7 linked regions of the Homo sapiens genome follow. The protein of the gene in region 2 purifies or fractionates together with the protein of the main gene of each other region. This does not show direct contact. Each region holds a gene or a part of one and is shown on either strand. Other genes may lie near its edges.

Region 1 (3,500 bases), on a different chromosome or scaffold from region 2:
AGGCTTAGGGCATAATCTTCTCTGGGAGCCTTGATTGAGAGGGGCTGGTAGGTAATGTGGCTTAAATGTTGCTCATTAGTTTTGCTCTTTCTTTTTTTCCAAATTCAGCTAAGGAGTATAACAAGTTTTACGCTCTCTCTCTCTTTTTTTCTTGTATGTTCTCTGGAACATGGAATAAAAAGGACAAAAAATTGGCAACCTGAGGAAGAGGACAGACAAGGGGCATGAACAAGCCACAACCTCTAAGTGACAATATCTGTAGTCAGCGGTTAGGATCAAATATTTTAACATTGCTTTCACTTACAGTCAATGGTGAAACATTTCCAAAACAATTTATTTTAGTTAGAACTTCGGTTTGTTTCTATTTTGATCTAGCAATAAAACATGTAAGAAACATTCCCTGCAGCTTTGTTTATAAAGAGAAAAACTAAAAGTCTGACATTGGGGGATTGGTTAAATAAATCAGGAGCTGTTACGTAGGCATTGAAAACTAGGACAGTATGTATAGGGTGGTTCCAGTTACGTTTATATAAATATTTACACATTTTACATAGGAAAACACCATTGTTTTAAAAGTACACAATTTTATTATTTTACCTAAAAGTTTGTAAAATTGGATGGGATTTTTTTTTTTCCAAAAAAAGCTATTGATAAAACTTATTTTAATTTTAACGAAAATTGGAATGTTACTTTAATTGCAAAACACTTTCTGAGCCTGAAAAATGGCTCTTGGCTGGTTTGAATGCCGGTTAGGCAGGTTTATTTCTTGGTTACTTCAGAGCTGATATATATAATTTATTCAAACAACCATCTTCCAGTTGATTTCCTTCCCCCCCCCAAAGGTTTTATTTAATCTTCATTTGTTATAAGATACAGGGAGAGGAGAGAAATTCAGATCATCCTTTTTTTGTCTTTAACTAAATCTGTTTTTACTAACAGCAGTAAAATATTTGTTGGAAAAATGGAAGCTTAACCTGTCTAGACTGTGACCTATACCATAAAATGTGTGGTCTAGGACTGTTGTGGAGTGTCTTGGGCTGTTCAGGGAGGTTTCCTTGTACTAAGATCTTGTTAAATCTGATTCTAAGAATTGCATTATGTTGAAATTTTTGTTTCTTGGCTAAGGTGATGTTTCTGAGATACCTGTATTTTATCTCTAGATACTATTAGCTTTTATTAGCAGAACTACTGAGATTTTATTGTAATATTTTAAAAAGTGGTGGATCCAGTATCGTTTTTATAGGCTTATTTGCAGGATAATAGTAAGATTAGAAAATTCATTAGGATAATATATTTATAATTGAGTGCCTCATGTAGTTCTCACTTGGAATTTTGGAATAGCTTATACTTCCTGATATAGATCCTTGGGGAATTAAATGCATTAAGAGTAAATATTTTAAATTTTTTATAAAGCAGAACAGCTAATTTAACTTAATGGAGGGTTTTCATATTTCTTGTGATAAACTAAACTGCACATAGTTTAAAGAACTGTCAGCCACGTAGGCCATATAACAGCTATTCTTTCCAAGCCTAGAATCCATGCCATAGAATTTATGTAACAAATATTTAATGAGTATCTACTACATGCCAGGCATGTTCTGCTGAGTGTGCAGTAATGAACAAAATACAGCAAGTTCTTTCTTTCATGGTTACACTCTAGGGGTGAAGGCATGCAGTTACATAGCCTTACCTTGGGTGTTTGGTAGGTAAGGCTAAGTAGAAAAACAGGAAGGTAAGAGGCGTGTAGAGAATGAGGGATGTGAGTGGAGGGATGGTGTCTTCTGTAAGCCATCAGAGAGGGCTTCTCTGTTAGGTTCCATTTGAGCAGAAACTTGAAATAAGTGGGGAGTGAGCTGTGTGGATATATGGAGGATATTTTAGAGAAGAGCTTTCTAGCCAGTATGAGAGCAGTACCAGATCATTGTAAGAGTTTTGGTTTTCATATTTGTGAGATGGGAAACGATTGGAATGTGTTTTGAGGCTGATCTTAAATTATATCCATTTGTCATGCATATGTGAAGAAATGGACGGATGGAATTACATTATAGGGAGCAACTCTGTGTGCCACGCATTGTGATAGATGTTTACAGATCCGATCTTAGAATTTTCATTAATACTGTTTATTTTTCAGATGAACAGTTTGTTTCTAGTTTTTGCCTGGAACTTTCTCATGGCGTGTTTGTGTCTTCAGTTCCACTTAGAATGCTTTTTCTAAGGTGGTTATACCAGTTTACCGCTTGCTAGCAGTGGACAGAAGTTCTCCCTGCTTCAGTCTTTACCACCATGTGTCTTTTCATATTTGCTAGCCAATCTAGTGATGAGTAATGAGGTTGATGACCTTTTCAGATGTTTATTGGCTACTTGGATTTTTGTGTTTTGTTTTTGTGAAATACCTGCTCATCTGTTAACTACTTTCTATTGGGATGTTAGTTATATTCTAATTGATTCATAGTAATGACTGCCTTTCCAATTATATATTGTAAGTTTCTTCCCTGGTCTGTGGCTTGACTTGGAGCACTTACAGTGGTGTCTGTCCTTTGATCAACAGACATTTTTAATTTTAACAATTGTTTCCTTCATGGTTAGTGTTTTTTGTCTTATTTTTAAGAGGTCTTTCTTACTACTTTTCTGAAGATATCCTCTTATATTGTCTAATAGAAGCTTTACTGCTTTGCTTTTCACATTGAGAATCTACATTCTACCTGGAATTGGCTTTGTATATGGGGGAGATTGAGGTCAGGTTTCATTTTTACTGTATGGATACCTAGTTGTCCCATCAGCATTTATTGGAAAGAGTGTCATGTCTCCACCGCATTGTCATCTTTGTCATAAATCAGGTGACTGTGTAAGTAGATCAGTTTCTTGACTGTTCTGTTGGCTTGTCTGTTCTTGCAGCAAACCTACACTGTCTAAATCATTATGACTTTGTGTTATCTTGGTACCTGGTACATGGTGGTGTAGTTTTAGTTGTGGTTCCTCAAGATTGCCTTTATTTTCTCCTTTCCAGTCCGTATGCTGTTTCTTTCTTTTTCTTGCTTTTGATACTGGCCAGTTCAAGTGCTGGTAGTGGGCATCAGGGGTCAACTTTTAAACATTTACCATTAAGTGTGGTATTTACTGTGAGTAATTTTTGTATTTGCTTTTATCAGATTAAGGAAATTTCCTTATATTCCAAGTTTGCTATGAGTTTTTATGAGTGGGTGTTGAATTTTAGAAATGCTTTTTCTAAATTGATTTAATTATGGTAATTTATTGAAAAGAGTATATTTGTTCTGTAAGTTCTGTAACTTCAATAAGTAATGTTGAAGTTACTTTTTTTTGCCTTCAAGCATCTGTTTAACAAAGCACATCTTGCACCACCCTTAATCCATTTAACCCTGAGTGGACACAGCACATGTTTCAGAGAGCACGGGGCTGGGGGTAAGGTTATAGATTAACAGCATCCCAAGGCAGAAGAATTTTTCTTAGTACAGAACAAAATGTAGTCTCCTATGTCTACT
Region 2 (3,500 bases):
GCTGGGTCTGTCATCCCTACACTTGGGAGGCCAAGGTGGGAGGATCGTTTGAGCTTGGGAGTTTGAAACCAGGCTGGGGAACATAGCAAGACTCTGTCTCTACAAAAAATGTTTTAAAATTAGCCAGCGTGGTGGCACGCCCTTGTAGTCCCAGCTACTTGGGAGGCTGACGTGGGAGGATTGCTTGAGCTCAGGTGGTTGAGGCTGTAGTGAGCCATGATTGTGCCACTGCACTCCGGCTTGGGGCAACAAGAGCCTGGGGCAACGAGAGAGAGAGAGAAGAATAGAGTCCTCTGGCCTAAATGATGCTGGTAGAGTGAAATTGTAACATGAGGAGATACCATGAATAAGAAGATTTATCCATAATTGTAAAATGCACAGGTGGCCAGGCATGGTGGCTCATGCCTATAATCCCAGCACTTGGGGAGGCTGTGGTGGGAGGATCGCCTGAGCCCAGGAGTTTGAGACCAGCCTGGGCACCATGGTGAAACCCCATCTCTACAAAATATACAAAAAATTAGCCAGGGATGGTGGTGTGTGCCTGTAATCCCCGCTACCTGGGAGGCAGAGGTGGAAGGATTGCTTGAGCCTGGGAGGCCAAGGTTGGAGTGAGCTGTGATGATGTCACTGTACTCCAGGCTGGGCAACAGAGTGAGACCCTGTCTCAAAAAAATAAAATGCACTGGTTTGCCCCAAATGTGGCACCATTAGCAGAGGAAGGGCATGCCTCACTAGATTAGTGCATTAAGACTGAGGAGCAAGGCTGACAGTTATTAAAGCTGAGAGAATTTAATTTTGAGGGTACACAAATGCCATCACCAACATTTGTCTTTTCTGATATGACAAGGGATGTCCCTTTTTGGTGGATGCAAGAAATTGTGATCCAAATAGAAATCTGAAGATTGACAGCATTATTTCATTTTCATATTAATTATTTATTTATTTATTTATTTATATTTTTTCGAGACGGAGTCTTGCTCTGTCACCCAGGCTGGAGTACAGTGGCACAATCTCACCGTACTGCAATTTCCGCCTACTGGGTTCAGGTGATTCTCCTGCCTCAGCTTCCTGAGTAGTCACCACACTTGGCTAATTTTGTATTTTTAGTAGAGTCGGGGTTTCACCTTGTTGGCCAGGCTGGTCTCAAACTCCTGACCTCAAGTGATCTGCCCGCCTTGGCCTCCCAAAGTGCTGGGAATACAGGCATGAGCCACTGTGCCTGGCCCATTTTCATATTAATTGTTTAAAAGAAAATTATTTGATTTGCCTGATAGTGTTAATCATTTCTTTTTAAAAAAATTAATTAATTTATTTTTAGAGGTGGGGTCTCGCCATGCTGCCCAGGCTGGTTTTGAACTCGTGGGCTCAGGCAGTCCTCCCAGCGTGGCCTCCCAAAGTGCTCAGATTACAGGCATGAGTCACACCCCCAGCTGGTAATCATTTCATGATGAAACATACAGTTGATCCTTGAACAATTTGGGGGTTAGAGGCGCCAACCCCTGCAGAGACCAGCCGGGGCACCATGGTGAAACCCCATCTCTACAAAATATAAAACTTTGACTCCCCCCAAACTTAATTACTAAAGGCCTACTGTTGATTGGAAACCTTGCTGGTAACATAAACAGTAGATTAACACACATTACATATATATTATATGTATTATATGCTGTATTCATATAATAAAGCTAGAGAAAATAAGGGGAAGATATATTAACTGTTCATTAAGTGAAGTAGATCGTCATAAAACTCTTCATCCTAATCGTCTTCACTTTGAGTAGTCTAAGAGTAGGGGTTGGGTTTTGCTGTCTCTGGGTGGCAGAGGTGGAAGAAAAGGTGCATATGAGTAAACCTTGCAGTTCAAACCTATGTTGTTTAAGGGTCAACTGTGTATCAAAATATCCCTTTGTACACCTTAAATATATATAATTTTTATTTGTCAACTATACCTCAATAAAGGTAGGGGTAGAAACATTTTTAAGATGTTACTTTACAGATTGAAAAAAATTTTAATATTCTTTTCCCAGCCTTATTGAGGTATAATTGACAAATAAAAATTGTATATATTTACATGTTATTTGTAAAGAATAAAGGAGATAATACTTATGAAAGTGCTTATTAGCACAGTGCCTAGACTATACAGATTGAGCATCCCTTATCCAAAAATTTGAAATCTGAAATGCTCCAAAATGTGAGACATTCTAGACACTGACATGACACTCAGAGGAAATGGTTATTGGAGGATTTTGGATTTTCAGATTTGGGATGCTCAACCAATAAGTATTTACAAATATTCCAAAATCTGAAATAAAAAACACTTCTGGTCCCAAGTATTTTAGATAGGAAATTCTCAACCTGTAATAGGTATTCAGTAAATGTTCATTTCCTTCTCTGAAAAATACCAATTTGGTTAAAAAACAAAACAAAAACAAGTTCAATATTAAGGCATTATTACTTCAAACAAGAGTGAGAGTGTGTGTGTTGCTTCTGGGTGGTAGTTGTTTTCCTGTTGGCAGAGACTATATGATGTTATGTAAAAATGGATGACTACTTTTTAGATTCTGAACTCATTTCTGTTCTCTTACTTAGTCCCGACATGCTGACACTGGATGAGCAAGAGCTTATGTGCTTTTACTAATAACTTCTCAATGTTTGGTTTTCAGCATCTTATACAAAACCAAGCTGCCTTTCATTGTGGTCATGAATAAAGTAAGTGTATTCTTCCTGTTGTGATTCACCATTTTTCATCAGAACCTTGTGGTTAGAAGGTTTAGGTGGGTGAGAAAGATTATTTCAGATGCTGGAGACCAGATTCAGGCTTTACTGAAACAAATTCATAGGCACTTCGAGAAAATGAATCAATCAAATTGAATGAGCAATTATTACCAACTCTTGTCTAAAATTATTTTAGGCTAGGTAGAGTAGCACTTCAACCACAGTATGTAGATTATCCCTCAGAGTCAAGATTGTGTAATTACGAGAGGGACAACTAGTCTACTGGAAGTGGCAATTAAAAAATTCTAAACTTCTCTGTTGGTTGATGGCTAGGATGCAAGAGACCTTTTGACTTCAGAGCCTAGAATGTGCTGGTGTCCATTCTGGTCCTGGTACTTGGCAGTGGATAGTGGAGGGTCAACCAAGAGAATACACATCTTCATTTAATTACACTGACTACACAATGATTGTGGTTCTTTGTGGCTTGTTGCAATGGAGGGGAAATAGAAGCAGAGAAAGAAAATATATGGATGATATGTTCTTTGCTGTCAACACTTAATTAAAAGAATAAATTTTGCGTTTGTTGGCTCTGGTTGCTCATAATTGACTTCTCTCTGGTACAGACTGACATCATTGACCACAGCTTTGCAGTGGAATGGATGCAGGATTTTGAGGCTTTCCAAGATGCCTTGAATCAAGAGACTACATACGTCAGTAACCTGACTCGTTCAATGAGCCTGGTGTTAGATGAGTTTTACAGCTCACTCAGGGTAAATTTTCTCTCCTGC
Region 3 (4,171 bases), on a different chromosome or scaffold from region 2:
ACATCATTTACTATTATTTTTTTCTTTTTTTTTTTGAGACAGAGTCTTGCTCTGTCACCAGGCTGGAGATGTGGTGGTGCAATGCAATCTCGGCTCACTGCTACCTTCGCCTCCCAGGTTCAAGCGATTCTCCTGCCTCAGCCTCCCTGGTAGCTGGGACTACAGGTGCACACCACCACGCCCAGCTAATTTTTGTATTTTTAGTAAAGACAGGGTTTCACCATAATGGCCAGGATGGTCTCGAACTCCTGACCTTGTGATCTGCCCACCTCAGCCTCCCAAAGTGTTGGGATTACAAGCGTGAGCCACCATGCCTGGCCTCACCATTATTTATCGGCTTTCACCTAAACGTAGCTGATCATCAGAACCACTTTAGCTTTAAAAATTCTGGGCTAAGCATGGTAGCTTATGCCTGTAATCTCAGCACTTTGGGAGGCCAAGGTGGGTGGACTGCTTGAGCCCAGGAGCTCAAATCTAGCCTAGGCAACATAGTGAGACCCCTGTCTCTACAAAAAATAGAAAAAATTAGCAGGCATGATGGCATAGCACCTGTAGTCCCAGCTACTCAAAAGGCTAAGATGGGGGGATCGCTTAAGCCTGGGAAGTCAAGGCTGCAGTGTGCCATGATCTTTCCACTACACTCCAGCCCAGGCAAGAGACCAAAACCCTGTCTCAAAAAAATAAATAAATAAAAATTCTGAGTTCCACCCCAAGAGATTCTGACTCATTAAGTCTGAAGGAAAACCCAGAATCTGAATGATGGTTTGGCACGTTATATTATCATCAGTTTATTATTCTTTGTTTCATTTGTGTACATTTCATTGCCATTAGGATATAAAAAAATCACCTACTTTTCTATTTCCCACAATACTTATTAGACATAAAGCAGACATTACTAATTGCAGAGCACTTAAAAGCCCACGATAATGTCTATGTTTGTGTGTAACAAAACTAGTTAACGTAAAATCCACATACTTTGGAAAACATTTTTTGGTTACATCTCTGCTTCCTTACACATTCAGAAATCCAGAAATGCAAAGGCCTTTTATTTTCACATTGCCTTATGGGTTTTTACCTGATAATAACATGTTCTCAATGAAGGGCTACTAGAGTCCAGTTCACAGCTCCAGAACTCTACTAACACGTACTAATCTCTTTCCCTCTCGAATTCAGACAAAAGAAAAAAGAAAGCCCAGGTGTATTAAATCCCGGCCCACTACCAAGGTTCTTAGGGAGAGCCAAGTTTTCTTTAAACTCTCCTGGTATCACGTCTTATATCTCCTCCTGTGCTACTGGGAAAGTAACATCTTCAATTTGTCACCACAGGCAGGTCTAATAAACCAAAAGAGAACAAGCTCCATACCTTTGTGTCTCTTGCTTTTCTTTTTTCTGGAGACAGTTCTCTCATGGATGCTTTCCTCCTGGGCATCCATCTCATCACTGCTGTCGATGATGTCACAGGGCTCACCAGCCCCAGAAAGAGCTTCCTCTGCAGGAACCTGAGAGGCTTCCAAGCCACAAAGAGATTTTACTAGAAGAAAATAAAAGGAGAATGAGATGGCACACAGCTCCACCCAGAAATACAAACAACTTAGCCAAGGTATCAGCATCCATTCAGGAAAGGGGGGAAAAAAAACATCGTTGAGAGAGAAAGGTGAGAATCTGTCACCAAAAAAAATAAAGATTTTAGTATTTTAAATACAAAAAAAAAAAAAAAAAAGGAAAGCAATGGGCAAACTGACTCCAAAGTTGCAGAAACTCCTTTTTTCAGCCCTGAAGAAAAAAGGTGTGTACAATTTTTCCACTATAAACCCTGCAGGATAAAAGCTGATTTGTATTCTCATAAGGTCTACAGAGAAATGTTTGAGACAAATTGAATCCAATTTAATCCTGGTCCTGAGCTGGAGGCAGTAGGTGTCATAAAACACAAGTCTCAGACCCATGAGTAAACAGACTGAAAGCAAGAGAAACACCAGAAAAGGAAAAGAACACTCCAAGGTTATTAAACAAGGAAGCAAACTGCAGAGTAAAACATGTGAACTACAGCAAAGAGATTAATAACCAAGAAGAATGCAGTGGAAACTAAAAAGTATGCAAACATGTTTTTAAATGCAAAGAAAGAAAGAAAATATTTCTGCTACAGAAACTGCTACTCTTGACTAATCCTCCTCCACCCCAATATGTAAGTTAACACTAACGAAAGCAAACACGGTTACAGGAAGACGACTAAAGGACTGCAAGAAAAACAGAAATAAAATACCTAGTTCTGTCTTCGCGGCATGAGTCTTTAAAGGCTCGCGCAAAGCTTACCTTCCTGCTGAACAGCGTTGGCTACGGCTTTCTTGACTCGTCCAGACCTCACGACCGCCGGATCCGAGTTGGCGTAATCCGCCACGGTCACTGCAACACAGCACCAACCCTCAAGGAAGAGGCCTTCTCTCGTCAGCGTCTTCCCCGCCAACACCTCCTCCTCGCTGCAGGCCCCCGGACCGAGCCGCCCTCCAGCCGCGGGCACGCGAGCGCTCACCTCGGCACGGTCCAGCCCCCTCCCAGCCGCCAGCCCCCAAAATGTTTCAGCGCCCCTGCCCCCCTCGCCCACCTCGGCCGGAGCAGGCGTCGTGGGCCCGGAACTTGAGTCGCTTTCCTCTCTTGGGCATGGCGACCGTATCGGGGCGAGGCCTGCCTAGCGGGCCGGGCCCCCGGGCCATGTCTCCGGCCGGAGAGCCGGCCCCGGGAGCCGCAAGCCAGCTCCGCCCGGCTCCGCGGCCATCCCACACCGGAGGCCGCTAACTCTCGCGAGAACATAGGTCCGGGTTCCGAGTCGCGTTGTCGGACGACGCCTCTCCACGCGAACCAATCATCGCCAGGTGCAAGGATACGTCATCATCCGGCACCCGCGAATCAAGCTGGGTCCGGGTTCCAGGTGGAGAGAGAGCTGTTGTACTGGGTGGTGTCGCGTATCGCCGTACCTCGTGTGAGATGAATGGTGTCTCAGAACCATAGCCCACACCTGTGTTGATTAGAATTGAGAGTTTACATCCTGGTCTCCGGGATTCTTCTTAGTAACTCCTCTGTCCACACTCCAGGTCCACTTCAGCACCAAAATGCATATACACTGTCATCTTCGTGCTCTATCTCGGACCACAGAGACTGAGCGCCTGCTAGTCTAACATAGGTCTGTAAGAGTCTTCACTCTATTTTACGAAAGCTATAAATAAATTTCTGAATTCTCAAAATAGGAGAAGGAGTTCTTAAAAGCTTCCAATCGGCCGGGCGCGGTGGCTCACGCCCCTAATCCCAGTACTTTGGAAGGCCGAGGCGGGCGGATCACGAGGTCAGGAGATCGAGACCATCCTGGCTAACACGGTGAAACCCCGTCTCTACTAAAAATACAAAATATTAGCCGGGCGTGGTGGCGGGCGCCTGTAGTCCCAGCTACTCGGGAGGCTGAGGCGGAAGAATGGCATGAACCCGGGAGGCGGAGCTTGCAGTGAGCTGAGATCGGGTCACTGCACTCCAGCCTGGGCGACAGAGCAAGACTCCGTCTCAAAAAAAAAAAAGTTTCCAATCTATCACCATATAAGGTTAGCCGAGAGAAAGGACGAAAGAGAGACCCAAGGTCAGCCGAGGAAGTTTATTAACCTGACGGCTGCTCCACCACAGACAGAGGAGGCACCCCTGAGCTTACAAAATGAGGGGTTTATATGGGGGAGAGAGACCCTGGGGTTGTTTGCTGGTTAATTTTGCCACATATTAGCTTGTGACGTTTATTACAGGAGGGTGTAGGTAAAGTTTGTTTATGCTTCCCATCACCTTCCCCTGTGCGGTCCGGATGATTTGTAATTGGGGTTTGTTTATTGCAGCAAGGTCTGATAAGTGAAGTCTGCTGGCTTCATAAGGACTTAGAAGTGTAAAGAGGCTTGGGGGAAGGAGAAGAGTTGCAGAGCATTAGGGGGAGGAGTGAGCAGCACGGAGAGGTTTGGGGGAAGTGTCGGCAGTACCAAGAAGCTTTTTGGGGCAGTTTGTTCCTAACACACCATACCTCCAAAAAACTACTAGAAGCATCCATGAAAAACTATCGCAGAGGCAGGAAGGTCACTTGAGTCCAGGAGGTCAAGGCTGCAGTGGGCCATGATTGCGCCACTGCACTCCAGCCTGGGCTACAGAGCGA
Region 4 (3,500 bases), on a different chromosome or scaffold from region 2:
ATGCGGCCGTGGAAGCTAATGTGGGGGCTGTGATGGTTAATTTTATTTATCAACTTGAGTAGGCTAAGGGATGCCCAGACAGCTGGTCAAACATGATTTCTGGATGTTCTGTGAGGTTTTCTGGAGGATATCAGCAGTTAAATCAGTGGACTGAGTAAAAAGATCTCAGCCAGGCTCAGTGGCTCACGCCTGTAATCCCAGCAGTTTGGGAGGCTGAGGCAGACGGATCACTTGAGATCAAGAGTTCGAGACCAGCCTGGCCAACATGGTGAAACCCCATCTCTATTAAAAATACAAAAATGAGTCAGGCAGGGTGGCACGTGCCTGTAATCCCAGCTTCTTGAGAGGCTGAGGCACAAGAATCCGAGGCACGAGAATCCCAGGAGGCAGAGGTTGCAGTAGCTGAGATCGCACCACTGCACTCCAGCCTGGGCTACAAAGTGAGACTCTATCTAAAAAAAAAAAAAAAGTAATAATGATAACTAACGCTTATTACTATGCTAATAGAGCACTACTACATTCGAGGCACTTGTTCTGGGGATTTACATGTAATCATCATTGTGATTTTTCTCTAACCCATTACCATCAATTTACAAAGAGGTGAAATAACTTGCCCAAGGTCACAGAAACCCCAACCTCTCCCCAAGGTATGTGACGTTCCTCTCCCAACCCCCAAACCAGGATGTGAACCCCAGCCAGCCGTGTCCAGAGCCTGACTCCTCATCTCGTCCATCACTGTCCTGTCTCATGGGCTCTGCATTTGTCCCCTCCCTAAGAGAAGCAGGCCACGCTGGCACCTCACTTCATCCAGTTTTACACGCCTAATCCCTTCAATACCTGTTCTCAGAATACATAACCATTAAATCCTTGCTTGTTCAGTGGCCAAAGAATGACAAGAGGAGAACCAGGAAGGACCTGGTTATGTTCCAACTCATCAGGTGTCCTTGGGCCCATCCTCTCTCCAGGTGGCCTCATGAGAAGGTCTTTCCTGCCTATTTATCGCAGGCTGTGATGATGAGCTAAGAGGGCTGTGAAAGGCAGGATGAGCTACACAAGTCACATATTTACTAAGCACCTACTATATGCTCAGCCTAATCACATATTTACTAAGCACCTACTATATGCTCAGCCTTGTAACTGAATGTAAAAAGGGTAATCTTTGTTTTTTGTTTTTTGGCGTTTTTTTTTTGAGATGGAGTTTTGCTCTTTCGCCCAGGCTGGAGTGCAGTGGTGTGATCTTGGCTCACTGCAACCTCCGCTCCCTGGGTTCAAGCAATTCTCCTGCCTCAGCCTCCCAAGAAGCTGGGATTATAGGCACCCACCACCACACCCAGCTAATTTCTGGATTTTTACGAGAGACAGGGTTTTGCCATGTTGGCCAGGCTAGTCTCGAACTCCTGACCACAGGTGATACACCCGCCTCGGCCTTCCAAAGTGCTAGGATTACAGGCATGAGCCACCATGCCCGGTCAGAAAAGGGTAATCTTTGAAAATTAAATACACTCAACAAGACCAGGCGCAGTGGCTCATGCCTGTAATCCCAGCACTTTGGGAGGCCAAAGTGGGTGGATCACTTGGGGCCAGGAGTTCAAGACCAGCCTGCACAACATGGTGAAACTCTGTCTCTACTAAAAATACAAAAATCAGCCAGGCATGGCAGTACACAGCTGTAATCCCAGCTACTTGGGAGGCTGAGGCAGGAGAATTACCTGAACCCGGGAGGCGGAGGTTGCAGTGAGCCAAGATCCTGCCACTGCACTCCAGCCTGGGCAACAGAGTGAGAGCGAGACTCTCTTAGAGATAGAAGACACATGACACTTGGTTCCTGGATTATGGAACCTTTGCAGAAACAAAATTCAAAGCCAACATGATAGCAGGAATCAAAAGGGAAAATAAGAGAGGGTCAGTGCAACTGTGACACATGGATTGCAGGAAGCCAGTCAGAGCCAATGATGCCAACACAGTCTCCACTTACTCAAAAAATATTACTCAGCACCTACCACAGGGCAGGCTCTGCTAGACAGCGGGAAATCGTGGCAATGAGACAGACTAGATCCCAACCTTAACAAGCTTACAGACAAGTGCAGGGAGAAATAGTAAACAAGAAAAGAAGGTTATTTCAGATCGCTAGGAAGGCATTTGAGGTCAGAGTGAAAAAAACCAGTTCGGCAAAAAGCCCAGGGAAAAGCTATCTTCTTCTTCTTGTTGTTTTATGGCAGTGGTTAGAACTTTAAGGATGAGAGTGGACATCCTTGCCTTGTTCCCAGCTTGGGGGAAAGGCTTTCATCATCAAGTCTGATGTTAGCTGTAGGATTTTTGAAGATGCTCTTTACCAAGTTGAGGTAGTTTCCCTGTATTTCTAGTGTACTGAGAGTTGGAGTTTGTCAAATGCTTTTTCTTTGTCAAATGATATGATTGTGTGATTCTTCTTTTGCCTTTTTTTTTTTTTTTTTCGAGATGGAGTCTGGCTCTGTCCCCCAGACTGGAGTGCAGTGGCACGATCTCGGCTCACTGCAACTTCTGCCTCCCGGGTTCAAGCGATTCTCCTGTCTCAGCCTCCCGAGTAGCTGGGATTACAGGTGCATGCCGCCACTATGCCCAGCTAATTTTTTGTATTTTACTAGAGACGGGGTTTCCCCATGTTGCCCAGGCTGGTCTCGAACTCCCGAGCTCAGGCAATCCACCAACCTCAGCCTCCCAAAGTGCTGGGATTACAGGCGTGAGCCACCTCGCCCAGCCTAGCCTTTTCATATAATAGATTACACTGATTGATTTCTAAAGTTGGACCCAGACTTGCATACCTGGAATAACTGATAAATCCCACTTACACATGTCATATATTCTTCTTATACATTGCCGAATTTGACTGGTAATATTTTGCTGAGAATCTTTCCATCTGTGTTCTTGGGAGATATTGGTCTGTATTTTCTTTTTCTTTCACATTTTTTATACTGTCTTTGTCTGCATTTGATATCAGAGTAATATCAACTTCATAGCATGGATTGGGAAGTATGCCCTTCCCTTCTATTTTCTGGAAGAGGCTGTGTAAAATTGATGTTAATTCTCATTTTAAAAGTTTGATAGAATTCTCCAATGCAATCACCTGGGCTTGGAGATTTCTTCTTTGGGATCTTTTTATTTATGAATTCCACTTATTTGATAGTCATAGGTCTCTTCAGGTTGTCTGTTTCATCTTGGCTGAGTTTTAGTGGTTTGTGGTTCTCAAGAACATGGTCCATTTCTTCTAAGTTGCCAAATTTATAAGAATAAAGTTGTTTATAATAAACCTGGTAGGTTTTGAGTGGGAACCAAACCATGGAGCTGCTTCTAGGCCCCCTCCCCAAGGGAGGGCAAAGACAGCAGGTTCCTGGGGATGGATGTCCCACCCCTGTCAGTCACCCACTTGTCCAACCCCTAGGGCTTTATGAATGTCAATGTATGTGCCAAATTCCACCAAAATTGTTAGAGTAAATCTCCAGGTAGCCAAATCTGAGCTCCAT
Region 5 (3,500 bases), on a different chromosome or scaffold from region 2:
GATTTGGCTAATTTATTTTCCAAGTTCTTTAACTGTATACTAAAGCTGCATATTAAATATTCACAGTATACACTCATGTTAGGCTCAGGGAAGTCCTATAGTAAAGAAATCTATTATTCTTAGATAGACAAATGAATATTAAACACTATTACTATTTGTAGGCCTCCCAATTGACTTTTCTTTCTCTCTGTTTTTGTGTGTTTTGATAGATGTATCAGTTGAGAGTGAACTGGCGCTAGAGAGTCAGACCAAAACTTACAGAGAAAAGGTGAGTGTGATAGAATTAAGATGTGGGACCTTAAGCAAGTTCCTTCTACACCTCGGGTTTCTCCATCAGTGAAATGAGCTTGTTGAACTCAAGGGTCTCCCTGGCTGCTCCCCGCTCATTCAGTCTGTTTCTCTGGACAATTAGTTTGTACCTGCAGAAGCCTCCTTGGTCCCACAGAGAACAGTCTGGCTCCCATCTGGGGCAGCTGAACACAGCTCTGTGCCAATGTTTGGAGTCGGTTCTCTGGGCTGATACAAGTGTAGCATAATGCTTGTTTTTAGGATTTAGTCCAAGTTTTAGAATATATTGGTTGTAGCCTGAAAACATTCACGTTAAAACAAAGTAAACTTGGGGATTTTCAATGTAGAAGGTCCCTACAAAGGTCATCTCACCCCAAGATGACAAACTGATTGAATCTTTGGTGCTGTGTGGAGCACTGTATTGAGAAGGGTTGTGAGGCTACTTTTTGCTTCAGGGGGAAGGAGTCAGTGATCTATTAGCCCTGTCTGTTACGGGTGTAAGATGGGAGAATTACCATTCTACTATTCCTGTCTGTTACGGGCATAGGATGGGAGAATGGTAAGCCATGTGCTACAGATTTGCCAGCCCTAATCCTAGTCAAGTCTTTATATCTTACTGATGGAGATGCTGTTGATTGATCAATCTGTTAATATCATTTGGTGCTTACAGCAGTCCTGTGAGGTAAATAGGTGCGATTCAGCCTTATTCACAGGTGAGGTAGTGATCACTCTGGGATGCTGAGAGTATCCCCATAGTGACACAGCTAGGAGGGGCAGCACCTACCTGTCCTGTCCCCAGTAACCAGGTTTATCTCATAAACAGATGGATTCTTGTATTGAAGCCTTTGGTACCACCAAACAGAAGCGAGCTCTGAACACCAGGAGAATGAACAGAGTTGGCAATGAATCTTTGAATCGTGCAGTGGCTAAAGCTGCAGAGACTATCATTGATACGAAGGGTGTGACTGGTAAGAAGTTGGAACTTGGGCTAAGAGTCTGCCCATAATGACAGCTTTCTCTTCTCTTGAGATCTTTTACCCACCCACACATGGAATGCTGGGAGCTAGGGCTGGATTCCTTTCAGCCTCTTGCTGAAGGCCTTCTCACGGACAGGTTCTGGAAGTAGTAAGAAACATCCGACATGGCTTTGTCTTCTAGTGATCCACAGTCAAGTACAGGGACAGGCATGGAATGGATACATGCCTGCCGTGCTTATGGTGCTGGGGTTATGGCCTGCAGGGCACAGAGGAGGGAGAAGGCCTCAGGTCTCTCCTTGTGCGTTGCAGGGAAGCTTTGGTCAAAAAGGCTGATGTGTTGATGGAAATGAGCCTCCAGAGGTGGCATTTCACTTTGGGATCAGTGGCTCTGTTTCCGGTATTCAGCAGCTGGAGTATTTAATTGTATTATTTTAAAATGTATTTATTGTTCAAATACATTATAAGAACATAAGAGCAAGTTTGTGTAAGAGTAGCTTTTCTTTTTACCGATTTTGGAGATGAGGTCTTGCTATGTTGCCCAGGCTGATCTTGAACCCTTGGCTTCAAGCAGTCCTCCCGCCTCAGCCTCCCAGGTAGCTAGGATTATAGGCGCACACCACTGTGCCCTGGGCAGAGCAGTTTTTCTATTAAGAATGAAATTCTAGTAATTTTTGGAAAATCTTTCCATACCCTATGATTATATAGATTTCAACACTTTCACAAATTTATTTATTGATTGATTGGAGATGGGGTCTTGCTCTATCACCCAGACTAGAGTGCAGTGGTGCAGACATGGCTCACTGCAGCCATAACCTCCTGGGCTCAAGTGATCCTCCTACTTCAGCCTCCCAAGTGGCTGGGATCACAGATGTGTGCCACCATGCTCAGCTAATTTTTTTAGTTTTTTGGAGAGACAGGGTCTTGCCATGTTGCCTGGGCTGGTCTCAAACTTCTGGGCTCAAGCCATCCTCCCGCCTTGGCCTTCCAAAATGTTGAGGTTACAGGTGTGAGCCACCACACCTGGCTGCGGAGTTATTCTTGTGGGGCAGTTACAGTGTTATATTCTGAAAGTTTTGTTCCACCTACAATGTGTGGCAAGTTTTTCTAGAAGTTAAGCCATTAAAGGCTATTTTGGACGTCCCTCACTTTTAGTTTCTCTCATTTTATATTGTAAATGTTTATGTATTAGCACAGCTGTCAATCCCAACTCTATTGTAAGTTACCTGAGGGGAATCTTGTCACCTCCACCTTCTCCAGTGCCTAGCTTGTGTTTGTTCATGAGTGAACATGGCAGTCCTGAAGCAGTCAGCCTGATGGGGAGGCGAGGTCACTTTGGCAGAAGCATTTAGACTTGGGGTTTCTGGACCATTGGTGGTCTGAAGTGCACAGACTGAAAAGAATGTTGGGGAACTGGAAACAAACAGGGTGATACATGGATTGTTTCTTTATTGAAAAGCTCTGGTCAGCGATGCTATCCACAATGACTTGCAAGATGACTCCCTCTACCTTCCTCCCTGCTATGATGATGCAGCCAAGCCTGAAGACGTGTATAAATTTGAAGATCGTATCCTTCTTGCAGTAGAAAAGCTGCCTTATTTCACAAGTTGAGATGTTTGCACGTGTGTGCAGTCAGGTTCTCTGAGGGTGTCTGTGTTCTGTGACATTCACAAGAGCTCCATCCAAACCTTTGCAGTTGCTCAGTGCTCTTGCCAGGAGGTTAACTTGGCTTCCTCACTAGCTGAGGGACCGGCCCCTGGGATTCAAATCCATTCCTCAGCAAAATGCCAAATGCCCACAGCTTAGACCTGTGGGGCTCACTCTCCATGGAGAGTCAAAATAAGAGTTGAACCAGCCAAATGCCCAAAGTCTAGGGCAGACCACTTTTGTTGAAGGAAGGGTTGGAGCTTAGAATTTCACCACCCAAGGGGTCCGGTCAGAAGGAAAATGCCTGCAGTGGCTTTGTGATGAGAAAAAGCAGAAAAGCCTGGGCAGGGAATGGGCTCTGGGCTGGGAGTCGGAGAACTGAGTCACCAAGCTCTGCCCCTATGTGATCTGCCCTGTGTGATCTTTGGCTCTCTGAGCCTGTTTCCCTGTCTGTGAAATGCCACTGCTATGAGATGACCTAGCTAGTTGGATGTTTCTATTTTGGTTGGATTATATTCTTGACCTGTAACTAGTTCTTTCCCCTGCGGAGTATGAAGCTCTTCAGAGCCCATCTGAAGCTTTCAGGAACGT
Region 6 (3,500 bases), about 85 Mb from region 2:
AAGACTGAAGTCATTTTAGGGGACAGAAAGGCAAGATAGGTTGAGCCTGTCTGATAAAGAGAAGTACCCTGTTTTTCTTCCATACTTTTTTCCCATGTCCCTAGGACCTTTGTAATATACTTGAGAAAACTGTTAATTCACACAAAGACAGTGTCTGTGTACTGTTTTCAAGGGATCAGTAGTACATTTCACCTCTGTGTTCCTATTCTGTGTGTTGTACTACCTTTGGCTAGGAGTGAGGTTCATGTTTACAGTTAGTCATGTATCTTTGTTTAACAAGTTGCAATTCATCTTTTTGGCAGGAAATGGGGGGCTATTTTATAATCAATGGCATTGAAAAAGTCATCCGAATGTTGATTATGCCTCGGAGAAATTTTCCCATTGCAATGATAAGACCAAAATGGAAAACCAGAGGGCCTGGTTATACTCAGTATGGTAAGTTCTGGAGATTATTAGAATATTTTTTAAGGAAAATTTAAAACTTTTTTTTTTTTTGAAGTAGATGCATCCAAATGGTCTTTGATATTTTTGTTTCTTTTTTTTTTTTTTTTTGGTAGGGATGGGGTTTCACCACGTTGCCCAGGCTGATCTCGAACTCTTGGGCTCAAGCAGTCCTTCTGCCTCAGCCTCCCAAAGTGCTGAGATTACATGCATGAGCCACCGTGTCTGGTCTTTCTTTTGTTTTTTGTTGTTTTTCTATTGAGCATTCTTGTGTTAAGTTTTCATAATTGGGATGGAAGAAGAAATGGAGAGATGTTAGTCAGAGGATACAGACTTGCAGTTACAAGATGAATAAGTTCTGGGGATCTGATGTACAGCCTGGTGATGATAGTAATACTGTACTGCTTAAAATTGATGAGTACATTTTAAGTGTCTCAACCACACACGCGTGCACACGTACTACAAATGATAACTATGGTGATTGATGTTTTCATCAGTTTGATTGTGGAAATCATTATAATATATGTATATGTATATTCAAGGTATTGTACACCTTGAATATATATGATTTTTATCAATCATAAGCATTTTAAAATTCACTTTTGCTAACTGAAAGAGCATGTGTATTTTTGTTACTACTTATGAAGATGAAAGCTAGTCTGGCTTGGCCATAAGTGGGTGTGGGTCTTGGCTGTCTTCTGGTTCAGGCTGCTGCACTTTTGCAAACTGAAAGAGCATGTGTATTTTTGTTACTACTTATGAAGATGGAAGCTAGTCTGGCTTGGCCATAGGTGAATGTGGGCCTTGGATGTCTTCTGGTTCAGGCCACTGTGGTACACCCCTCAGGGTCTCTGTCTGACAGCCACCTGGCCTCTGTTGGAACATTCTCTTTGACAATGCCTAAGACAGCATGTTGTATTCTTGAGCAACCCTGACAGTTAAACAATTTGTCCTGATAGTTGAGCTAAAAATCAGACCTTAATTATAGCCATACATACTATACCTAGAAAAACAGCATGCCTGAATGTCTAGTGATTTTCTTTTGCATCAGTTGATGGTAGTATGTCTTAGCAGTCTTTGCCTGAAACTGAAATAAAATCTAAAATTCTACTTTTCTCCATTGGAACTATTAGATCAAGCACCATGTCTTGACCAGACTCCACAGTTTAAGGCAGATATAAAGTGCTAAAAGATGTGGACTCTGTCCTGGAGGGAAACTTTGAAGTTTGCTTAAATTCATAGTTTCGGTTATTTTACATTAGTGTTTCTCAATCTGGGTAGATTTTGCATGCAAGAGGACATTTGCTGAGGTTTAGAAACATTTTTGATTGCCAGTCTTGGCTAAACTTAGTGATTTGGCTTTAATTGTGTCTAAGAGGTTAAGATTGTTCAGAAAGAAAATGGTTGAAGCAATTAAGATATCAATGAGTTTCTGATTTTTTTGTTGTTTGGTTCAATAGGAGTTTCAATGCACTGTGTGAGGGAAGAACATTCCGCTGTCAATATGAACCTCCACTACTTGGAAAATGGCACTGTTATGTTGAACTTTATTTACCGAAAAGAACTGTTCTTTCTTCCTTTGGGATTTGCACTTAAGGTATGACTTAATGAATGCATTCTTTTGTTATGAAGAAATTCACTGGGGGTAGTATCCTGTGCACATTGGATGGATTCTCCTTGTTAAAATAATACTGTACTAGTTGTCTACTGCTCCAAAACAAATTACGTCAAAATTCAATAGCTTAAAACTCAATAACATTTCTGTCTCACAGTTTCTGCGGGTCGGGAGTTTGGGAGTGCTTTGGCTGGGCACTTGTGGCCCAGGGTCTCAGGAGGTTGCATGGAGATGTCAGACAGGACTGCAGTCATTTTCAGGACTTCCAAGGTGGCTCACTCACATGGCTGGCAAATCTGCTGGTTGGTGGCAGGAGGTCTCCTCATGGGGTTGCTCTCTACATGGCCCTTTCTGTAGGCTGCTTGAGGCAACTGTCTTCCTCCATATAGTTAGCTGAGAGAACAGAGAGCAGAAGATGCAGAAGGAAAAAGCTGCAGTGCCCTTTGTGATCTAGCCCTGGGAGTCTCCCATTATCTTTTTCACCACATTCTCTTGGTCAAGCAGGCCAGCCTTGATTCGGCATGGGAGGAAACTACACGTTTGTGAACACCAGGAGATGAGGACCCTGGAGGCAATTGTGCTGTCTGGCTATCATACAAAGAATGCTTTATTTTAGAGAGTTTACTTTGATTCAGCAATAGCAGAGTGCTAATTTTCCTTGGGTATTAAAAAAATGAGAGAAGATAATTATTAGTGAATAGATAAAGTATTTTAGTTATTAGTGAGCAATTAAACCTTTTATTTTCTATTCTAGGCACTTGTCAGCTTTTCTGATTATCAGATCTTTCAGGAGCTCATCAAAGGAAAAGAGGATGATTCTTTCCTTAGGAACTCTGTTTCTCAGATGTTAAGGATTGTAATGGAAGAGGGTTGTTCGACACAAAAACAGGTCCTTAACTACCTAGGTGAATGCTTCAGAGTAAAACTCAATGTTCCTGACTGGTACCCAAATGAGCAAGCTGCGGAGTTCCTGTTTAAGTATGTGTGCTTTGTCTAAACTGTTTTTGGAGGGGCGGAGGGCTGTCAGTGGTTCTTTGTATTGGTTGCAGTTTGGGCGGGCGAGTCATTTGGGAATGAGAATGAATCTTGGGGTAGAATCCTGGTCCTTGCTAGCCGGGGGCTACCTTTGTTTTTGCGGCCCTCCTCACTTGTATTTTTTTAGTAGTCGTGTTTTATTTTATAGTACTTTTTAACTTTTATTTTGAAATAATTTCAGACTTCCAGAATAATGTCCAAATAGTACATTGGATTCTAATTGTGAACATTTCATTCATTTACATTTACTTTTTTACTTTCTGTGTACACAGATGTACATTTTTCTTTCTGTACAATCCCTGAAAGTTGCAGGGATTGTATCACTTTATTTCTCCAAAGCAAGGACTTTGTCTTATATAACCACTGTATAATTACTAAAGAAGCCAGCTCCATACTGGTGCTGTCCAGT
Region 7 (3,500 bases), on a different chromosome or scaffold from region 2:
TAAGTTTCTCAAGTATGTTGTTTTTTTTTGTGGGGGTGGGGTGTGGTGATTTAAAATGGAATTCCAGGGCTTAGTGTTGGGAATACTAAGGAAAAGAGAGAGAGAAAACTCTCTTCTATCATGACTGCAGAAAATGAATACATTTCCACAAGTAAGTGTAGCAAATAAATTGGTGAATTACAGAGATTCACCAAAACATCAATTCCTCTGCTTTGCAGGGTGGCAAACTTGTGACAGTGGATAACTGTTCTCTTCCTGTTATCTAGACATCAGAGTTTAATGCGAAGTCCTAGTAGGACAGGACTTGGTAACTCCTAGAAGTGTTCCAATATGATTTAGTACATGATTTGTTACCATAGAAAGAATAAATAACATGTTTATTGTCTGAAGAGGATGGATACTTTTACTTTTCCTGTTAAGGTATGAAATATAAGTGCCTTACAATTTCCTTCCTTGCTATAAACAGTGAATTTGAGTGATTTTACTGGAATCTTCAAACCCTGGGTATTTTCTCATTGAAAATTAAATGCATAACCTTGACTGGGAAACAGAGACAGCAGACTAGTGACTTGAAACTAAGACCAATCTTGAGCCTTCAAAGAGAGGACATTACAGGCCCAGTGGTTCTTGCTGAGGAGCCTCCCCTGCAGTGTCCCAGCTGCTCACAACTGACTTTGGGTGGAGCCCTTTATAGTGAGAGAAGCTCAGAGCCCTGGAAAGCTGGGGATTCATAGGCAGAGGTGGTTGAGGTGATGCCTTTCTGAGAATGTACTTGCTATTATCTTGGGTCTGTTTGTAGACGTTTCTAATGAAACAAATCTGGATTTAGGTAAGGAGTGATTTATTTTATTTTTATTTATTTATTTTTTTTGTGTGTGACAGGGTCTCACTCTGTCTCCTAGGCTGGAGTGCAGTGGTGCGATCATAGCTCACTGTAGCCTTGATCTCCTGGGCTCAAGGAATTCTCTCACATCAGCCTCCCAAGTACCTAGGACTAAAGGCATGTGCCATGATGCCTGGCTTATATTTTTAAAAAAGTTTTTTTAAGAGAGACAGGACGTTGTTATGTTGCCCAGACTGGTCTCTAACTCCTGGCCTCGAGCAATCCTCCCACCGTAGCCTCCCCAAATTCCAGGATTATGGGGGTGGGGCGGGGAGCACCACCACACCAGACAGGAATGACTATTCTAAAGGATAATCGAAAGGGGAGAAGGCACCAAGTATAAAATCTTCAAGCATCTCAGGCTGGGCGTGGTGGCTCACGTCTGTAATCCATGCACTTTGGGAGGCCGAGGTGGGTGGATCACAATGTTAGGAGTTTGAGACCAGCCTGACCAACATAGTGAAACCCCATCTCTACTAAAAATACAAAAATTAGCCGGGCATGGTGGTGCGTGCCTGTAATCCCAACTACTCGGGAGGCTGAGGCAGGAGAATCGCTTGAACTCAGGAGGCAGAGGTTGCAGTGAGCCGAGATCGCGCCACTGCACTCCAGCCTGGGCGACAGAGTGAGACTCTGTCTCAAAAAAAAAAAAAAAAAAAAAAAAATCTGCAAGCATCTCAGAGTTTATGCAGAAAAGGATTTTCTTTTGTAGGGAGGAGCAAATGATGAGAAAGAAGGTGGGAGGTGGAAGGCAGGATGCAGGGTGCAAAATCCCACCTAGATCCTGAAGGCAGTCTCTTCTTAGGAGGGTCATCAGAGGGGTTGTATATAGGCTCAGGCTGGGGGTGGGTCAAAGTTCAGGGGCTGGAGGAAGAAGAGAAACTTAACCAAAGTTTTGTTAACAGGTACTTTGTTCTGACTGATCACTGAAGACAGAGCTGTTCAGCTAATCAATTGTGAGGAAAATAAAGGGAATTTCTAGTCTGTGTATGGCTTTGTCATAGGTAAAAAAGCAGTGTCATCTAAGTCATAATGAGAAGAGTGTTTCTTTGCGTAACCTGCTCCTGCAGAATACAAAAGACGGGGGAGTTTCTTTAACCATAGCTATTTCCAGGATTACATACCTGCCCAATCTTCTGCCGCCATTTTCCCTTACATCCATCCCTTCCATTTCGCCATTTCTGATTTATATGCAGTTGCTGAGAAGTATGGGTGATCCCTGGGGCTTGTGACTGGCATCTGCAGTGGGGCACTGTTATGGTAATGAGCCCTGAACTTGTGGGGTCCCCGTTAACTCTGGGTAGTGTCAGAATTGATTTGAATGCTTAATTGGTGTTGGAGAATTGGAGATTTGGTTGTGTTCAGCAAACACCACACATTTGGTGTCAGAAATGGTATATGAAAAAAGACACTAGAGATCAGAACCTTCACCTGGCTCTGGGTAAGTGTTCGCTGGTGAGAATTGAGACCCTGGAGGAGGGAGCATTTCCACACTGTGAGGAGAGGAGAGTGGGTTGTGTGAAACACCTGTGGACTCACTACCCAGGTTCATAAATGGGCATTGGGCATTTCTGGTATGTCCTGATCTTGTCTCCCGTCTGTACCCACAGGTGACCAGGTCCTCATTTTTAAAAGGTGGTTCTTCATAGTTTTACCATCTATTTATCATTAGGCTGAATTTTGCTTGGCTCTTCCTCTTTTGAATTTTTAGTAAGTTATTACCATTAATATTATGCCAAAAAGAGTTTTTTTTTGGTTTCTTTGCCTGTTTGTTTCACGCATGCTGGTTTCTGCATTTAGTTTGGGGGTTAGGATTTCAGCAAATGAAAGTTTGGGCAGGGGATGGTGGTGGAATACAAACATTCAGTCTGTTAACAATCCTAACTGTATTTTGTACGACATCTTGGCTATTCTTAGCCTTTTTTTTTTTTTTTTTTGAGATGGAGTCTCACTGTGTAGCCCAGGCTGGAGTGCAGTGGCGCTCTTGGCTCACCGCAACCTCTGCCTCCGGGCTCAAGTGATTCTCCCACCTCAGTCTCCCAACAAGCTAGGACTACAGGTGCACAGTACCACACCAGCTAATTTTTGTATTTTTTTTTTTTGTGGAGGCGGGGTTTTGCCATGCTGTCTAAGCTGGTCTTGAACTCCTGGGCTCAAGCAGTCCACCCAGCTATGCCTCCCAAAGTGTTGGGATTATAGGTGTGAGCCACTACGCCCGGCCTTATTTTTGTCTGTTTTTTGTGGAAGTGATATCATCCTATATGTTATATTGTATGCCATCTGTCTATTTCACATAGCTGTGAATCTTCCATGAAATGGTATTTTATTCACTATTTTACTTAATAAACTTTATTTTTTAGACCGGTTGTAGTTTGACAGAAAAATTGAACAGATAATACTTAGAGTTTCCTTATTCTCCTCCACAGGTGATTGTTTTCCCCTACTTTTCTTTTTTTTTAAGAGACGAAGTCTTGCTCTGTCACCCAGGCTTGAGTGCAGTGGTGCGATCACTGCTCACTGCAGGCTAGACCTCCAGGGCTCAAGTGATCCTGCCGCCTCAGCCTCCCAAGTAGCTGGGACCACAGGTGTGCACCACCACATCTGGCTAATTTTTTTT

What was found.
Region 1: the proteins of GPN1 (region 2) and URI1 purify together in Homo sapiens (affinity purification with mass spectrometry, with the first as the bait; one large-scale study listed by BioGRID). This does not show direct contact.
Region 3: the proteins of GPN1 (region 2) and TMEM183A purify together in Homo sapiens (affinity purification with mass spectrometry; one large-scale study listed by BioGRID and IntAct). This does not show direct contact.
Region 4: the proteins of GPN1 (region 2) and LRRC20 purify together in Homo sapiens (affinity purification with mass spectrometry; one large-scale study listed by BioGRID and IntAct). This does not show direct contact.
Region 5: the proteins of GPN1 (region 2) and POLR1E purify together in Homo sapiens (affinity purification with mass spectrometry; one large-scale study listed by BioGRID and IntAct). This does not show direct contact.
Region 6: the proteins of GPN1 (region 2) and POLR1B purify together in Homo sapiens (affinity purification with mass spectrometry; one large-scale study listed by BioGRID and IntAct). This does not show direct contact.
Region 7: the proteins of GPN1 (region 2) and ZNF627 purify together in Homo sapiens (co-immunoprecipitation; one large-scale study listed by IntAct). This does not show direct contact.

The regions. Positions count from the first base shown.
Region 1 is NC_000019.10:29,945,239-29,948,738, forward strand, and holds part of URI1 (unconventional prefoldin RPB5 interactor 1), read left to right. Parts: intron 1-3,500. UniProt on the Homo sapiens protein: Involved in gene transcription regulation. Acts as a transcriptional repressor in concert with the corepressor UXT to regulate androgen receptor (AR) transcription.
Region 2 is NC_000002.12:27,635,550-27,639,049, forward strand, and holds part of GPN1 (GPN-loop GTPase 1), read left to right. Parts: intron 1-2,660; coding exon 2,661-2,706; intron 2,707-3,335; coding exon 3,336-3,482; intron 3,483-3,500. UniProt on the Homo sapiens protein: Small GTPase required for proper nuclear import of RNA polymerase II (RNAPII). May act at an RNAP assembly step prior to nuclear import.
Region 3 is NC_000001.11:203,006,003-203,010,173, reverse strand, and holds the start of TMEM183A (transmembrane protein 183A), read right to left. Parts: upstream 2,801-4,171; 5' UTR 2,709-2,800; coding exon 2,600-2,708; intron 2,544-2,599; exon of another isoform or gene 2,401-2,543; coding exon 2,311-2,400; intron 1,532-2,310; coding exon 1,364-1,531; intron 1-1,363.
Region 4 is NC_000010.11:70,327,126-70,330,625, forward strand, and holds part of LRRC20 (leucine-rich repeat-containing protein 20), read right to left. Parts: intron 1-3,500.
Region 5 is NC_000009.12:37,492,448-37,495,947, forward strand, and holds part of POLR1E (DNA-directed RNA polymerase I subunit RPA49), read left to right. Parts: intron 1-209; coding exon 210-268; intron 269-1,111; coding exon 1,112-1,256; intron 1,257-2,721; coding exon 2,722-2,829; intron 2,830-3,442; coding exon 3,443-3,500. UniProt on the Homo sapiens protein: Component of RNA polymerase I (Pol I), a DNA-dependent RNA polymerase which synthesizes ribosomal RNA precursors using the four ribonucleoside triphosphates as substrates.
Region 6 is NC_000002.12:112,548,965-112,552,464, forward strand, and holds part of POLR1B (DNA-directed RNA polymerase I subunit RPA2), read left to right. Parts: intron 1-302; coding exon 303-435; intron 436-1,901; coding exon 1,902-2,038; intron 2,039-2,810; coding exon 2,811-3,034; intron 3,035-3,500. UniProt on the Homo sapiens protein: Catalytic core component of RNA polymerase I (Pol I), a DNA-dependent RNA polymerase which synthesizes ribosomal RNA precursors using the four ribonucleoside triphosphates as substrates.
Region 7 is NC_000019.10:11,600,483-11,603,982, forward strand, and holds part of ZNF627 (zinc finger protein 627), read left to right. Parts: intron 1-3,500. UniProt on the Homo sapiens protein: May be involved in transcriptional regulation.